Linked DNA regions of Homo sapiens: region 2 is linked to region 1. Evidence: fine-mapped expression QTL. Tissue or cell type: whole blood. Region 1 holds a variant in brackets; the other region holds the start of a gene. All regions are shown on one strand. Distances are between the middles of the regions.

Region 1 (2,891 bases):
CCGGGGACGGGGGGGCAGTGTTGGGGACAGTGAGGGCAGGCCGGGGACAGTGGGGGCAGGCTGGGGACAGTGGGGGCAGTGTCGGGGTGAGGATCTGGTCTCCCGACACCCCTTCCCGGGAGCGAGACCTCAGGCCCAGTCTTCACTCCCCAGCTGTGAAATGGGTGAGAACAGAGGGTGGCTGAGACTCAGGGCTGTTCAGGGTGGGGTGGGCTCTGGACCCAGCAGGCCCGGCACCCAGGCCAGGGCTCCAGGGGAGGCCAGGTGGGGCGAAGGCCAAGAAGGGGCCGGGGCTGGTCAGAAAGGGCTCCTGGTGACCAGAGCACTTTGCCTGAGCCAGCGTGGGAGGGAGGTGGGCTGGATGAGCCAGGGAGGCGCCGGGAGGGGCCTTGGCAGAGGCGACTCCCTCCGGCAGCCCCCAGGCCACTGAACCCTGGGTAGTGAGAACCGGCAGGGGAGGCTGCAGACGGAGGAGTGGAGGCTCCTTGGCTTTGGGGGCTCTGAGTAGAAGCACCTAGGGGGTCCCTCAAGAGGTCCCCAAATGCTGCCCCATGGTGAGGAAACAAGGAGAGGCCCGGCAGGGCCCCCCTTGGTTACAAAGGGCTGCCACTGTGAGAAGGCAACACTGCCGGCTGGGGCTGGGCTTTCTACCTCACCAAGCCTCTTCCCACCCAAAGGGCCCAGAGAGGGGCAGCTGCCCCCCACAGCGGGCACAGCACCTCCTCCCTGTGTGATGGGGTGGGGCCCACAGTCTCCTTTCTCGCGGCCTCCCTGGGCTGACCCTGGGTCCCAGCTCGGCCATGGGGGCTTCGGCATGTAAAGCCCATGGGGGGCAGAGCCTCCGGCCCCTGCCAGCTTCTGGCTGTCTGTGTCGCCCCCAGCACTGGGCTGGTGCCGTGGAGGGAGGCTCCGCCCTCCCCCCCATCAACCCGCTGAGGAGTTCTGTCTTCCCAGGGTTGTGAGGGAAGCCAGCTCTGCAGGCCGATGTCCAAGTCCAGGCGCTGCCTCCTCCAGGGAGCCTTCCAGACCTGATCTGTGCAGCAGAGGCCCAGAAGGACCTGGGTGTGGGGATCCTAACAGGAGGCGGGGGACCCAGCGCGTGCAGAGAGGGTCCCAGTGCTTCCTCCTGAGTGAGGGTCACCCATCCGGCTCCAGCTGCACAGAGCCACTCCCTCTGAGCAATCCTGCTCTCTGCCTTCCTGCATTAGCTCTTGCCTGCACCCAGTCCAGCAAATCCCTGCTCATCTTTCAGACCCAAGTTCAAGGCCTCCTCCTGCTCCGGGCGGCTCATCACTCGGCCTCCCCAGGCAGAGAGGCTAGGGTCCTGCTCACTGCGGCGTCTCCCTTGCCCACTGGCGTGGGACTACAAGGAAAGGGGTTGACCCCCACCCTCCCCTGCCATGCCCAGCAGGGTGCAGCCACAACC[G/A]GGAAGGTGCTAGAGGCCCCGGGGGGGAGGCTGGGCCAGCACCAGGCGTTGGGGGGCAGGTTCCCGTCTCTACGCCCGAGCCCCAGGCGGACGGCGCATGCCCCTCCCGCTGCCCCACCTGTCACCCACCTGCTGGCCCCGGGCTGTCTCTGCTCCTGGCTCCCCTCCCAGCTGCGTCCCCAGCTGCCTCTCCAGGGAGGAGTGACAGCTGGCCTGTGCCACACCCTCGAGCCCCTCCCTGGACTGCCCCCTCCCTGGGGCAGGACCCCTGCGTGTGGCACAACCAAGGGGCCTGCTGATGGGGGCTCATGTGAGCAGTGCCCCAGCTGTGGGTGTGGGTGCTGCCAGCTGCCACCGCCTTTGCCCTGGCTTCCCAGATAGGCCCCGACACACACTCCGAAGCTGTATCATGAACGCTGTGGTGGGCGGCTGGCGGGGAGCGGGGTTGCTGTCCCACTACCCTCTGGAAGCCTCAGCCACGGAGGGCCCCTGTGGGCACCTTTTCCCGGCACACGGTGCTGTGTCTCTCCACTCTTGGGCTCTGCAGTGACTTGAGGGGTCAAGTCTAGGACCCCAGGGGAGGCTGGGCTCATGAGGGGACCAGAGACCTCAGTGCTGTGCAGGGAGCCCCGAACCACCCTGGTGGAAGGCCCAGCCCAGCTCCCCAGGCCTCCTGCCAGCTCCCTGTGGTGTCCAAGGGACCTGTGGTCAGGCCTGGAGGAGAAGCTCCCCCTCCCCTCGACATCCTCCCCGCAGCCCTTGCTCTTCACCAGAGCCTCCTCACTCCCCAGGACCCCAGAGAGGACGGACCCTCTCCAGCCGCCCTCTGGGCTCAGGACAGCCGGGTGGGGCAGCCACAGGAGCTGCCTGCAGGGGGCAGAGTCGGGACGGGGACCGAGCCGGACACCCATTCTGCAAGTGTCTGCAGGGGGAGGACGGAGGTGGGTAGCTGGGAGTGCTGGGCCGAGGATGGGCATTGTCAGGCCCTCAGCGGGGACTGGGAGGTAGAAGTGGGGGTGGGGGTTTGTGGAGGAAGGAGAAGAAGGGCCAGCGTCCCGAGTCGGGGGGTGCTTGGCAGTGGATGAGGCCGGCAGGAACAGACCTGAGCTTGGGGAGCTCCACTCCGAACGAGGCATCCGTCAGAGTTCTGTGCATACTGGTGTCCCTGGCTGGGGGCCAGGCCCCGAAGTGGAGCCTGGGACTGTGAGGGTGCGGGGGTGTGCTGGGGTGGGAGGTGGATGGAGCCCCCCCACCGCCTGGCCCCTTGGGCTGAACCTTGGGCTTCGGAGCCAGAACAGACACAGGAAATCGCCTAATTGCATTTGTGCAGGAACACCAAATCCCTCGCAGCTGCACGGGGCTGAGCCAGGGCCACGGGCGGGGTCGGCCATCCCAGAGTCCTGACAGCTCCGTGGTGCATGCCAAGGGGCCTGGGCCGCTGGCCGGGGGGCGCCTTTCCCAGGCC
Region 2 (2,891 bases), 23 kb before region 1:
CCTGCCGATGCAGTGCCTGGACGGGTGGGTGAGCGGAATGGCTGCAACCTGGAGGCGAGACCCTACCACCATGAGGGGAGCCGTTTCAGGATGGCCTCAGGATGGAGGCCGCATGGTGAGAACCGCAGGGCTCTGCCATGTGCCACTCTGCAAGGGGGACTTGGGGGCCCTTAGGGACCCCCAGGGAGGAGGCGTGGGGAAGACACAGGCATGGCCTGTTCATCTCCATGGCGCTGGGCCTGATCTGGTTTTAGCCCTGCCCATCGTCTGGGCCACGGATCCCTCTGGTGCCTCCACTCGTGGGGCTCTGAAAGCCTCTGCTGGTCTTTGTGGTGTGTTTGGTGGGTGGGGGGCTCGCTGAGTCCCAAGGAGGCGGCCTCCGGTTCGGCCCCACCCTGATGGGTCAACACTCTGGGCCCAGGGCCCTCCCAACCCCTGGCCTCTCTCCAGCCCCTCTTTGCCTTGGGACCCCCTGTAAGTCCTTGCTGGTTGGATTTCTCAGGCCCAGCCGCTGGCCAGGGCTCCCTTCTCCCATTCTCCTGCGCTGAGGTTTCCAGCAGGGAAGCCTTCGCCACCTCTGTGGCTGCCCTACTCTGGCCCAGCTTAAGTCCTCCCCTGCCTCAGCTTTTGGGGTCTGGCTCCTGCAGTCATGCATCCCTCCTCCTGACCCTGGAGCCACTGCGTGGTCACTCCCAGAAGCTGGGGACAGTGAGGGCTGGAAACAGCCTCCATCCCTCCCCTCGGGCTGGCCTATGCCTCTTGGGAGGGTCCCTGAGGCACTGCCTTTAGAGCCTGGGGACACGAACCACTCGGTGGTCAACTCCAGCGACCAGAGCACGGAGAGCAAGGGGCAGCGGGGGGACGAGGCGGATGCCCGACAGCTCGGCATCAGCAAGGCAGTCCAAGACAGAACAAGGCACCCGACGGGTAGAACGCAGGGGCATCCCGGGCACAGCCCCCAAAGCCACCTGGGACCCACAGCTGTTTGATGTGCTCAAGGCTATGACCCCAGGCTTCGAGAAAAGACTCCACCAAGTTCCATGAGCACCTGTAGGAGAGCCGGCCTCTGGGTAGATTTCACCCAAAGAAGCTAAAACGCTCACGTGGTGCTTATGGGATCACAGACGTGTTTGTCCCTGATGCTGCAGGAGAACTGGCCACTCACAGGTGGACCTGATGGCCAGAGCTACTAGCGGGGACCAGGGGTAACATGGGTCCCCCTCCCCGAGCCATGAAGAGCTGCCTGCGGCCATCTTGGCCCTCGCACCCCGTCTCTGTCACCCCAGGCCCCTGTAACTTGCTTAACGCTTCCTGAGGGGTGGTTTGGGTTTTTTTTTTTTTCTTCCTCTCCTCTTGTAGCAACAGATTAAAAAACAACACCCTGACCCAAGCCGAGACAGGTTCCAAACCTCAACCTGCAGCCGGAAGGGGGAAGTGAAACTCGGCTGGGGGTGGGGGCTCAGAAGCCGCCCCAGAAAGCACTGAAAGCCACAGCACGTACACCCACTCCAGGGATCTGCCAGCACCCTGTGGGGCCCAGACTACAGGCTGATGGCGGAGGCTTCGAGTGACCCGGGTGCCGAGGAGCGGGAAGAGTTGCTGGGGTAAGGGTCTGCGGCGACGCCCGGCGCCCTGTGCCGTGTCCACGGGTGCATAGTCCTTGAGCTGCATGGAGGGTGGAGAACTGAGGTGCCTGATGGGGAATCTGGGGCCCCCAATGGGAGAACTTGGATGTCCGATGGGGAAACTGGGGACCCACAGACAGGTGGCAGGAAGTCTTGCTGGGACCCCCCTCTCACAACAAGGGTGGAGGTCTCTTCCGCCTGCCTCTGTGCCCTGGACTCACTGGGGGAGGCGCGTGGGATCCTAAGCCCATGGTGGATGCCTGAAGCGAGGAGACCCCAAGACGTGTCCTGGACTGCCAGGGAGGAGCTGGGGACTGTGGGCCCTGTTAGCTTGGGAAGAGGCAAGGTGGGGGCTGGGGAGCAGCTGTTCTGGGATGGGTGGAACTGGCCCGGGCCTGGCCACCTGCCCACAGGACTATCTGAGAGGGGCTATCCTGCCTTGAGGGTCTGGAGGCCGCCAGGCTTGGGGCCCAGCAGGCCTCAGGGCAGGGCACCCAAAGCTGCCCTTGACCTGCGGTAAAGGACAAGGCCAAGGATTCTGGCAGGTGCCTGTGCTGGGTGCCAGGCACCGTGTGTTGGTTGGAGTGGGGACATGAGGGGGCATGGCAGAGGTTGTGTGTAGGACTGCCAGAGCTGGGCAGAAAAACCCCGCTGCCAAAGGCCTCCTAGCGGGCAGCTGTACTCTGTGGTACCAATGGGCATCCAGCCCTGTGCTGGGGTGGGTGGAGAGGGCTAGCGGCTTAGTAACTGGGCTCCCTGGCAGAGGGGAGCTGCCGGCCAGCAGGCATCCAGGCATCACAGCTGAGCCTCGCCAGGGGAACCCGAGTTGCCCCCGGTGCAGGTCCCAGAAGAGATGGGAGGGCTCAGGGCGTGCGGTGCAGGGACAGGTAGGGCTTTGAGGGGCAGAGGGGCGACGTGCTAATGGTCAGGGGATGGGGATCCGGTGCTGGGGATAGAGGCCGGCCTAGGAGCAGGTCAGCGGGGGCTGTGGCCTGGTGTGCGGAAGGGAAGGCGCTGGGGCCCAGGTTGCAGAAAGAGTGTGATGCCCGCAGCCACACAGGACGGACCTGAGAGGAGGCCCAGGGTGACGCTCACATACCCCAAAACTGCAGCCAGGGCTGCTACCAGTCTCTGCCTTGGTGCTGACAGCAGAGGGTCCCGGTCTACCCGACCCGGGGCGGTGCAGGGACCACCTCCCGGCCTTCACACAAAGCTCCTGTGCTGTTGGTGGCTGCAGTCACTGTCCTGTGTCTGTGTCCTTGGTGG

What was found. PIP is the estimated chance that this variant, and not a neighbour inherited with it, causes the effect.
Region 2: it holds the start of LSP1, and the variant in region 1 is fine-mapped to the expression of LSP1 in whole blood (INTERVAL, PIP 0.93).

Annotation. Positions count from the first base shown.
Region 1 is chr11:1,874,279-1,877,169 of GRCh38, forward strand. All of the region lies in intron 1 of LSP1 (lymphocyte specific protein 1), which reads left to right. Among named protein-coding and RNA genes, the nearest start is that of MIR7847, 4.3 kb to the right of the region's middle. RefSeq lists enhancers at 1,269-2,165, 2,166-2,891. The variant G/A (reference allele first, on the strand shown) is at 1,427.
Region 2 is chr11:1,851,594-1,854,484 of GRCh38, forward strand. It overlaps LSP1 (lymphocyte specific protein 1), which reads left to right and starts at 1,491. Exons shown (of 11, transcript NM_002339.3): 1 at 1,491-1,604. The coding sequence starts at 1,552. RefSeq lists enhancers at 222-271, 1,263-1,582.